Linked DNA regions of Homo sapiens. The protein of the gene in region 3 purifies or fractionates together with the protein of the main gene of each other region. This does not show direct contact. Each region holds a gene or a part of one and is shown on either strand. Other genes may lie near its edges.

What was found.
Region 1: the proteins of PDK3 (region 3) and PDHA2 purify together in Homo sapiens (affinity purification with mass spectrometry; 2 studies listed by BioGRID and IntAct, with this or other methods). This does not show direct contact.
Region 2: the proteins of PDK3 (region 3) and PDHX purify together in Homo sapiens (affinity purification with mass spectrometry; 2 studies listed by BioGRID and IntAct, with this or other methods). This does not show direct contact.

What each region holds. Positions count from the first base shown.
Region 1 is NC_000004.12:95,837,714-95,841,465, reverse strand, and holds PDHA2 (pyruvate dehydrogenase E1 component subunit alpha, testis-specific form, mitochondrial precursor), read right to left. Parts: upstream 1,374-3,752; 5' UTR 1,316-1,373; coding exon 149-1,315; 3' UTR 2-148; downstream 1-1. UniProt on the Homo sapiens protein: The pyruvate dehydrogenase complex catalyzes the overall conversion of pyruvate to acetyl-CoA and CO(2), and thereby links the glycolytic pathway to the tricarboxylic cycle.
Region 2 is NC_000011.10:34,954,474-34,958,225, reverse strand, and holds part of PDHX (pyruvate dehydrogenase protein X component, mitochondrial isoform 1 precursor), read right to left. Parts: intron 843-3,752; coding exon 643-842; intron 1-642.
Region 3 is NC_000023.11:24,462,917-24,466,668, reverse strand, and holds the start of PDK3 (pyruvate dehydrogenase kinase, isozyme 3 isoform 2 precursor), read right to left. Parts: upstream 1,384-3,752; 5' UTR 1,214-1,383; coding exon 1,108-1,213; intron 1-1,107. UniProt on the Homo sapiens protein: Inhibits pyruvate dehydrogenase activity by phosphorylation of the E1 subunit PDHA1, and thereby regulates glucose metabolism and aerobic respiration. Can also phosphorylate PDHA2.

The DNA.
Region 1 (3,752 bases), on a different chromosome or scaffold from region 3:
ATCTCTTTTAATAATCTCTTTTAATAAATGCTTACAAGGCTTTTGTTTTATGAGTTTTATTCCTCCTTGAGTTGAGAACACAGTTTCTTAAATTTGACCATGAACATTCCATTGAGAGACTGATGATAAATTCACACGTAGCCTCCCTTTAACTGACGGACTTAAACTTGATCCATGGATTTGCACCACGAACTTCAAAAGATGAATCACTGCTGTAGATGTGATGGCCTAATTCTTCCAAATGTGGCTCAGGATCAGTGGTAGCAAACTGGGCAGCATCATCAATTTCTTTCCTCACCTCAGCCCCAATTTCCTTTAATTCTTCCACAGTGGCGAGCTTGCTGTTTACCATTCTATCTTGGAGAATTATTATAGGATCCCTCTTACTTCTTACTTCCTGAATTTCTTCTCGTGTACGATAACTGACTCCAGGATCACTCATACTGTGTCCATGATAACGGTAGGTTTGCAGCTCCATCAGTATGGGCCCCTTTCCAGATCTACAGTAGTTAGCTGCAAATTTTGTTGCCTCACGAACACACAGAACATCCATTCCATCGACCTTTAGCCCAGGGATAAAATTGCCCCTCTTGTAGTAATCAGGGCTGGCTGCTGCTCTCTCAGTAGATGTTCCCATTCCATATAGGTTATTCTCACAGATGAAAACACAAGGTAATTTCCATAAAGCTGCCATATTGAAAGCTTCGGCTATCTGCCCCTGATTCGCAGCGCCATCCCCATATAAAGTCAAACAGATCTCATCGTTTCCTTTATATTTACAGGCCAGAGCAATGCCAGCGCCCAGGGGGCCCTGTGCACCGACGATGCCATTGCCCCCATAGAAGTTCTTGGTATACATATGCATCGATCCTCCTTTTCCTTTAGCACAACCTCCTCTTCTTCCCGTCAGCTCTGCGAGAATGGATCGGACAGAAAGTCCCCGAGTATAGCACACACCATGAGCCCTATAGGATGTAATGACGTGATCCGAGGGGTTTATGCCGGCCTCAAGGCCCACGCAACAAGCTTCCTGACCATCGCACAGGTGACAGAAACCGCGAATGAATTTCTGTTTGTACAGCTGATCTGCCTTCAATTCCATGCGGCGAACAGTCAGCATCATCCTGTAGTATTTAAGCCCCTCCGCCCTAGTGAGCACTGTAGTGACAGGGGGACCCTCTTCCAACAGATAAAGATCACATTTCTTAATTTCAAATGTAGCGTCATTTGAGGAGTTACGGGATGCCACCAGCACTCTGCGAGCTGATTTCTGGGCAACTCGCCTCAACACGCGGGAGATGAAGGCGGCCAGCATATTCTTCACGGAGTGCTGTAGATGGCAGCGGCGTCCCGTAACGACCGCCGGAAGGCCTGGCCTCGGCTCCGCGTCTCCTTCCGGTGCTCCAATGCGCTTGGCACCATCCGGGCAGTGCACACGGGTGATAGAGGCAGGTCCTGCACAGCACTGGGACATGGGCCACGCAGCCTGAGCTGACTGATTTGTACAGTGCCTGCCAGCTGTAAAATGAAGACTAAAAGTGATTTCCTTTTCTGGAGGACTTGGGCAAACTACAGGGCATCCTAATCGCCGTCATTGCTGAACCTCAATAATCTGAGTCCCTTTTCCCTGTTAAACCCTGGAGCACTGTATCTCAAGCTTTCCCGACAAGCGTATCAAATAGAAGAAAGGAACAAACTCAGTCCCTAAGGCACATGAGAGTTCTGAGAGTTAGTCCAAAGGTATTTCTTCCTACCAATATTTCTTTAATGTCTTGTTTTTGATCTTTAAAATAGGTATGAATATTTATCCTGCTCCATAATGTGCCATATGTATTTTAAGGTAACAACAAAGCTGTAAATTATTTGTAGCTTAATTAACTTTAAAAACAAAACAAGCACACGCACGTTAACAAAAACCCCTTTTAAAGAAAAGTCAGTACTCTCAAATAATATGCCACATTTATCCTGATGGCGTCTAGCACCTGTGACACTTGAAGTGGGGAGGGAAAATGTATACAAACCTCGGCCTGAGGATAACACTTTAAACCCAGTAATAAACTTTGCTTGGTGTGGGAAAATTGGAAGCAGGGAGAGAGGGTTGAGGTGCAGATTGTGGTAAAAAGTTTGTAGTTTGTGACATTCCACTTTTCCTTACTCTGTTTAATAATTCTGAATCTCTGTTTTTACCTAGTTTTATCCCTATTTTCTGACTACTTCACTTTTGCTCTTCCTTTTGTTTATTTCCTCTTTTTTTTCTTTTTGGTTTTCTATAAAAATGTCTTCAGCAGGTTTCCATAGACTTTCAGGTGGTATTTATTTATTTATTTATTTATTTTGCTTTCATATCAATCAAACTGGACCAGCCTTAGTCCAGGAAATCTAGAAACATGTTCTTATAGTGCCTTTTTATGTAGTAACCATTAGAAAGTGTTACTTCTTATAAAGTGACCCACCAAACAATACACAGTTTGGACTACAAGAGAGCAACAGAGTTTGCTTATGCCACTGGAAACCGTTCAATCACAAGAGAAGAGAAGCCTTAGACCAAGGGATACAAAGATCACATATCATTTCTCTCTTTTTGTGCTTTTACCAGGAAGGCGATTTTGTGCCCCAATAAGCCAACCCTAACTAGGGATCCTGTTTTATTTAGAATATTAAGCCATTCACCTTAATGCATGCTCTGTTTTATATCCATTGCCTATTTGCAAATGATAAATTCTTACCCAAATGTCCCTATTACATGTTCAAAGCAGCTGCCTTCTCTATATCTAGTTGCAGGTGTTATTTTGGGCACTTCTTTTAATATTCAGGAAGAAAAGAGAAAATAGCTTGTTAAAAAGTTAAGATACCTCTTAAAACTTGATCGTCTCCCCACCTTCTGAACCCAGCCATCATAATAGGCCTCATCTTTTCACTCAATTGAAAATTCAACTGTTGGAATTCATGGTCTTGCTGTGTTGTTTGCTCCCTCTTTGATAGTTAGCCTGTCTCTGCTGTTCTCTTTCATTCCTCCAGGTATTGGAGATCTCCAGGGAGCATTATCTCCATAAGAATGAGAAAAATGACACTGCAGGATAGAACAGTAGTGTTAATGGGTCAGTGAGTGACAGCTGAGCCTTCTCTCAGAGGTATCAGCCAGGCCAGTGCTGCCAGGAACACAAGAGCTGTACAGTAAAGTGTGCCAATTTAATCTTGTCACACGTAGCCTGGACTGCAAAGATAGAGCTCCCCTTAAAAGCCCAGTGTGTCAAGCCTAAACCCGACTCATGCCAGAAGAGAACATACAAAGATGCTAATTGGAAAATATCTGTACTACGGGTTCCCACAGAAGATGTCCTTTAAAAAAAAAAATTTCTCAACAGGATCTAGTTAAGATAATAAATAATAAAATGTGAAACTCCCATAGACCTCTTGGTCATCAGTTACCCTATATATCCTAAATTCAACTTAAAAATAGACATCTGAAATCAAACAATGTTGAAGCATTTCAATTAAACTGATTAATCTTGATAATGACTTTTTGACTTTTATTGCTATCCTTCCAAATCCATCTACATTTTTCAAAGAAAGAATGAAATTTCCAGACATCAGGGTAAAATGTTTATCCTGAGCTGTTGAGCTTCTCCTCTTACATGCCCCCCAGCTAGATAGGATTCAAGCTATTCACGGACAATAGAGCCAATGATGGTGTTCTTTTCTTCAAATGATTTATTTTTTGTCCTGTCCTTGTTCAATACTATGTTGATTAC
Region 2 (3,752 bases), on a different chromosome or scaffold from region 3:
CTACTTTATGAAGATCTTTTTCTCGTAAAGAAAAAGTAATGTTGTATAATTATATAGAATACTAAATAAATGAAATGTTAGAATTTACAGAGTTCTTCTATTAAAGCAATGTAAAACTAAAGTGAAATGATGTGTATTAAGTTATCTGTTTTGTTACAGAACAGACAAAATTGAGCTCTAGTCTGTGCCGGAAAGTCATAATGCAGACTAGTTTGAAAACGAATGCATGTTAAAACATGAATTCTATTTTATATCAGATAGACATTTGAGCTTGGAATTCCTGTAACAGTAATTAGAACTCCATAAATGGGAACAGAGTATCAAGTTTGGTATATTGAATACCATTTTAGACTTCTAAAACCTAATTCAACCTCAACATGGACACATACTGTTTGGTTTTCCATTGTGCAAGCAGGGCTTTTAGAGTACCTGGAACATAGCAGATATTCAGTAACTATTTATTTACTGAATGAACAATGATGGTTAAAAAAAAAAACACACACTCTAAGGTCTGAGTGTGCTGAGAACAGCAACTTCCTACGTGATGTACAACGATGTGCGAATATGATAATGATTACAATTCCATAAGAACTGCCATAACTTTTTTTTTTTACATCATCCTTTGAATAAATATATACTCACCGTAGTGTCCCGGGTATGTGTTCCTTCTTGACAGGGATGGAAATCTGTGGTTCTGGTGAGGGGCGAGGCTCTGAAGGTTTTGAAACTGGTGGTGGAGGACCTACGTCTTTGGGAATTTCAACATGTTTCCAATCTTCTCCTTCTTCTACTATCAAACCAATTAGTGAACCTAGCCGTATATTTTTACTTCCTTCTTCAACCTATATTTAAAAAAGAAGTAACTGTAGAGAAGTAAAACCCCATGACTGCATTAAGTAGTTTGTTCTTTTGTTGGGTAATTCTCCCCTTAAGATATCTTAATTTGAGCTAAAAGCTGCTTCCAAGACAGTTTGCCTCTGCCTTCCACCTGTCACCTTCTCCACTTTCTCCCACTTATGCCTTCCTTCACCATTCTCCTCTTCCCACTTGCTAATGCTACCTTCTGAAATAAAGGATAAATCTAGAATGTATCCTCTTTCTGAGAGCCTTCAAATAAACATGTAAGATCCATCATTATCATCTTCTTTTTGATGTCAATACAAATCCAAACAGGAGCCTGTGGCTACATATCTTAACCATTTGTCTTTCCCAGAGAGTTTCTATGCAATGGCTTTAGAATTCTAAAAGCTCAGAAGGGATTAACTCCCTCAACTTAGTCCAATCTACTAAAATTTACCTAATGCAAGAATCTTTTCAGTAAACTTAGTCTGAAAAGATGAACATTCTAATGTATAGATAGAACTGGTTAACTATTCCAGTTAATGTTAAATATAGTCTACTTCTTTATATTTAATTATTTCCCTGTATATCTATTTACAAAACCTGAAAAATAAAATAAAACCTCATGAGTTTTTTTATAAGTATATCAGAAACACAGTGGTGTCTCAGTTAATAAAGCATTTCTTCCACAGATAATGCCAATTAAACACTTAAATAAAATCAAAGATAATGTTTTTAAAAGTTAAGTATATTTTAAGCATTTCAGCAGCATTAATTTATAAAGAAAGGGCTAATTCTAATTTACTTACTAAAAAGAAGTCCCTAGAAAACCTTCAAATAACAATATTTTATAAGTTCACTCCTGGAAGAAAATGTCATTCCCTTAAAATCTTCTATTATTCCCTTTCAATTACTCTAAATAAGGTTCATTAGCTGTATTTAATGAACAATAGAATGATAGGCTGCAGGACGTCCACTAATACAGTAATGGTAAGGAAAAGCATAACTTCTAGAATGAGTTTGACATATCAGAGTAACACTAATTTCAATGCTTACTGGTATGTTCACTATCGTTAATAAGGCATAAGTTATAAGGGGTTAGGAAGCTAAGTTTACTAATTACTGATGAAGAAGAAAAGCAGCAATGCTTTCATGAAGCAAAATACATATATATATATATGAAATTAGTATAGAAAGCTGAATAGGAATGTTTAATGAATTACAAGCTATGGAAGAATACTAAGAAAGCCAAGAAAAATCTAGTTGCTTAGTTGTTTGCCACATACTAAAAAATTTTGCTTCTGCAGAGTTCCTTTTTCTTTACTATGTCAAAAAGATGAGTTAAGATTATTATTAGACCAATATTTTTCTTCTAAAAGTGTTTAATTACCTGCTTGTGAATTGCTAACTCAAAAATCAAAGTAAAATGACTAATTTTCTTTAAAAATGTATACAAAAAAGCACTGTTAAGTGACATGAAGTCCACTTGATGTTAATTCCTTTCAAAACTGAATCAGAAATAGGATCAATATCCAAGTACAAAGAACATCATTCAAATGTAAAGCATTAAAAAAAGTTTTGCTTTAAAAATATCAATAGATTTCTAAAATCTGAGTCAGACAACTGTACTACATCTGAAAGTGGTACCTCACCTTCTGTTTCATTTACTGTAAATCATATAAATGATTCCATATATACTCTACCAACGTAACATTGACACCTTCACAAGTAGGCAATAAACAGCATTTATCATCATTTCAATTTTTACCATTATCTAAATATCAAATAAAATTTATTTTTAACTATTCACATTTTTTTCTATTTAAAAAAGTGACACCATGAAGCATGAAACCCAAATACAATGGACAAGGACAAGTGATATACAACCATACAACTTGAATATATAACAGAAGATAAAATACAGTTGATTATAATTCCATTTAAAGTCATTAAAATCTCTATATGAATTTAAGATAATTTCTTCAACCTTTTCTATTCCTTTGGTGCAGAGATCTTTCAGAGGTGTGCTAATTTCCTGTAAGCATTTGCTTACACTGTAGTAGGCAAATACTCAAAACTGGTGTAGACTTAGTATAAATACGTAAATAATACTCTTTGCAAAACTGTTTAAAAACCAAGCAGGCCTCTGTTACTGTTCCCTTTCCTCTCTGAGCTACCTCCATGGTAGCTCATGGTACCTCCATGGATACACTCTGCCCTACCAAAGCATCTGGAGCTAAGGACACCTCAAATGCCAGAGTTTTCTTATGCACTCAGCTTACTTGACCAAAGCCCTCTCTTACTCTTCTGCCAATGATTTCTTAATATTAAATGCAGGGTTTTTACACATAGCTCTATCAACTTAGAGCTCATCGATACTGAAATATTGAATGTTGAGTCTATCATTTCAAATATTAGCCTTCCCTCCCAGTTGTGTACAGACTTCCTGAGTTTCAACGCTGGCTCCACCACTTACTAGTTATGTGACCTTAGTAAAGTTTCCTTATCTCACCATGCTTGTTTTCTGAGCTGTAAGATGCAAATAACAGTAGCTACTTCACATTGTTGTTATGAGGAATAAATGAGTTATATGTAAGGCCCTTAGAATAGTGTCTGATAGCTAGTAACTTGTTTTCATTTTCATTGTTAAAGGCATTATTATTGCTGTTGTTATTGCTGTGGTGTTTTCCTTCAAATTATGGATTTTTTAAAACAATACATTCAACATGGATCAAGATTAGACTACAGGGGACTGACCCCTTGGTATGGGTTAGAAATTCATGCTTAAAGGCTTAGCATGTGGCTGGCAGCACTAAAGGGCAAACATCAACATATACGATAATGGGTAGTAAGGTCTGTGACAAACTATTTCTTCATAATTCTCAGACAGAGGCTGAATTCTATCCCTCAAG
Region 3 (3,752 bases):
ATTCCTCTCTTCCTATCCTAGCTTTTAAAAAAAAAAAAGTATGGACATCACTTTTTGCATATCAGGTCTTCCTCAAATGTTCTACCTACTCTGCACTTTAGTTTTTATGCCCAACTGACACTATCACTGACACCCTTGACATTTACATAAAATTCATTAAATGAACAGACACCCTACGATTTCCCCTGGAGAGCTTAGAACATCTTTGCTGCTGGATTTGATTTTCCTCCAGGGATGCTGAGTTCCATTCTGATACCTCAATGCATGCGTTTTACTTTTAGGTGTTTCACAACCAGCTCCTTCGTTTTCTGGGGAAACATGATTCAGTTAACAGAAGGTGGTGGAATCTATTCCCATCTCAGCTAGGCCTGAGGCAGGCTGGGAACCCGAATCTTCTTTGGTCCCACCTCAATCCGTGAAAGCCGCCCACCAGCCCACCGGACAGGGAGAATGTGGGTGGGACACCAATGGAGAAGAGAAACGAAAGGTGCTGGCACTAAAGCCAGAGTTGTATTAGACCCTGCTCTGATGCTAGGATCCCAGACGTCCGCTCTTCCCAAGCATCTAAGGCGTCTGCAGGCCAGGCCTCTAACTGATTTAACATAACCTGATGAAGACAACAGTTCGAGTCCTGCCACTCCAGCCACACAGCAACACCTTAGAGCAGAAAAGGAACAAAATGCCATTGCATAATTTATTCAACCTCAAGGTATTTCTAAACAGTTCTTACCCAACCAAAAAAAAAAAATTCTAAAAATAAAAACATTAAAAAGCCACCCACATCTCGTTCTGAAGTTTTAAGGGCTGTGAGGTTTGTGTCAAGCAGATTTGAAGCTAACGACCGCAGGTTTGGGGAGTCTCGCCTGCGATGAGGGTCCTGCAATGAGACGCCGTTTCTGTGTCTCCGGGTAAGTCCCAGGCTGGGTGCGAGGGGGCCAGGCCCTGCCCCTCCGCGCCCCGAAATCCGAGCCCCAGGAGAGCCCCCCGGATATTCCCTAGCCCCGCCTGCGGTTCCCACAGACTTTACCCCGAAGCTGCGGAGATCCGGGGTGGCAGCCCGAATGGCGGCGGCCCCGGGCCCATGGGGACCCTTGGCCCCGTACTCACCGAAGTCCAGGAATTGTTTGATGGAGAGCGGCGACGGCGAAAAGCGCGAGTAGCGCTCGATCTGCTTGGGCACCGGCTGCTTCAGCAGCCACCGGAACAGCCGCATCCTCGCCCGGGCGGCGCACAGACCCGCCTAGACGCCCGGGTGGCCGCAAGGGCTGGCGCAGCCAAGCCGCACGGATAGGGCACGTTTGCGAAGCGCGCACCCCGGCCTCGATCTCGGCCTCGGCGCCGCCGGTGCAGCCGCCGCAGCAGCAGCAGCAGCTCCAGGACAGCGGCGGGCCGCCCGCGGCTTCCCTAGGCTCCGCCTCGCTGGGCGGAGTCGGTTGCTGCACGTACGCGGCGCGCGAGGGGAGGCGAGGAGCGCGAGGGGCACGCGGCCGCGCGCGCCCTCCACTGATTGGCCGCCGCTGCCTCTGTGACGTTTGTGTTTTGTCCGGGCGCGGCGCCAGAGACCCCCCTCCCTGGCTCATGGGACTCAGCCCAGCCCAGCAAGTGCAGCCGCTTTCAGCTCCGCCTCTGGCTGGGTTCTCCGCTGCCGAAAGGTAGCCGAGGTGCCCGCGGACCGGGAAGAGGCCAGGAGCCCGGAATCCGATCCTCCGCGCTGCTCAAGACCCTTCTCAACCGCAGGCGCCTTTTCCGGGAGGAGGACTTGCCGTTCGCTGCATCCTGACACTTAGATTTTACAGCCTAACTAGACTGACTCTGTTTCGTGGCCCAGCCCCACCCCCACCTCCCTGCCTGACTCCCAAGAGAACACCTTTGGAACACCTTTGGACTGGATTGTTAGTTCGCTGATTCTCTTTTTCGTGGTTCCTTTCCCCTCCTTCCCGCACAAGATTAAGTGACTGATTGCATTTCATGTCCCCCCACCACCACCGTTGGACGGGATCCATTGTGAGGTCAAGGGTCAATAACACCCCCTACCTCCCCAATGCCAGTGGACAGGATAATTGCAAGGTCACTGACTCTGTTTCATACCCCCCCACCCCACTACTACCATTGGAAAGGATCAAATGTAAGGTCACTGGCACTTTCTTTCATACCCCTTCTCTACACCACCACCATAGGACAGCCCCCTTCACGCTTCACCACCACTTTTGGACAGGAGTCTATGCTTACACAGTGTTGGGTATTCTTTATCTCAAGTGAACTTGAGAGCCTGGCATGGTGACATGCACCTATAGTCCCAACGACCCTGCAGGCGGAGGTGGGAGGATCACGTGAGCCCAAAAGTTCAAGATCTGCCTAGGCAACATACCCAGACCCCCCTCTCAAAAAAAAAAAAAAGTGAACTTGAACTCAGGGCTCAGTATATGAAATTGTTATTTCCTATTATGAGTGAATAAAGTACAGCTTACTTTAGCCATTTCCACCAAACCTTGGCTTTTTTTTTTTTTTTGGCAATATGTAAACATAAACATATGTAACTAAAAGGACAGGAAGAATGTTCTTTAAGGAAAGGTACAAATGTGACTGGAAGCCACTCCTTGGGTCTCTGATTGGACTAGTTTTCTCACTGAATGAGATTATTGGTGGGTAGCTATTTAGCTTTTGTGCCTTCAGTGGACGTTTATGCAGCCAATTCTTTGCTTAATAAAATAGTTGCATCTCTACTCTGAATGTAAAGAAAAGTAACATACACAGTAAAAGACCTCGGCCAGGTGCGGTGGCTCACGCCTGTAATCCCAGCACTTTGGGAGGCCGAGGCGGGCGGATCACGAGGTCAGGAAACCGAGACCATCCTGGCTAACGTGGTGAAACCCCAGCTCTACTAAAAGTACGAAAAATTAGCCGGGCGTGGTGGCGGGCCCCTGTAGCCCCAGCTACTCAGGAGGCTGGGGCAGGAGAATGGCATGAACCTGGGAGGCGGAGCTTGCAGTGAGCCGAGATCGTGCCACTGCACTCCAGCCTGGGCGACAGAGCAAGACTCCATCTCAAAAAAAAAGACATCCAGTGGTCTTCTAGACTTTTGGATTTTCAAGAACATCTTGGTCATCTTCATCTTGGTAGAAGTATGTAGACTACCATGTCTTTTCCATTCAAATTAAATCAAAGCATTAAAAAAGACATACTAACAACTTATTTAACCAGGAGCTTTACCAGAAGAGCTAAGTAATCCAGTTGGTGTGCATGGGCAGACAAAGAGAAGACCAGTGGCCTGTGGTTCCTAAAGTGACTTTCAGGTGCTACCTGGAAGTGGAGCGATAATTGGTGGCAGTTGTCAGTGAGCAGGAAGAAGCTGGATGTTTGTGGAGAGGGAGATTTTCTCAGCCTAAGCAACAAAGCGCTGATCTTTCTGAGCTTGCAAATCGCTTGTTTCACTTCTTCCTTTTCCACTGCACAAAATGCTACTTAAAATCCATTCTGTTGATTTGATTATTTAAACTTTCATGTGCCTAATTTTATTTCTGCTTTTCCAAAAGGTGACAAAGTCCTAGAAGTTGGGAACAATATGAAAGAGCCCTATATAATGTAAAATGTGCTTAGACAAGGCTAAGGTCACCTAGCCTGTCTGCGTCACGCTTATTTTTATGTCAGATTAAGATACCTGATTTATCTCCCTGGCATTTGTGACAGTCAAATGAAATAAACCACATGTAATATAAATACAAGGTACTGTACCTCCTGTGTACAGCAATGCA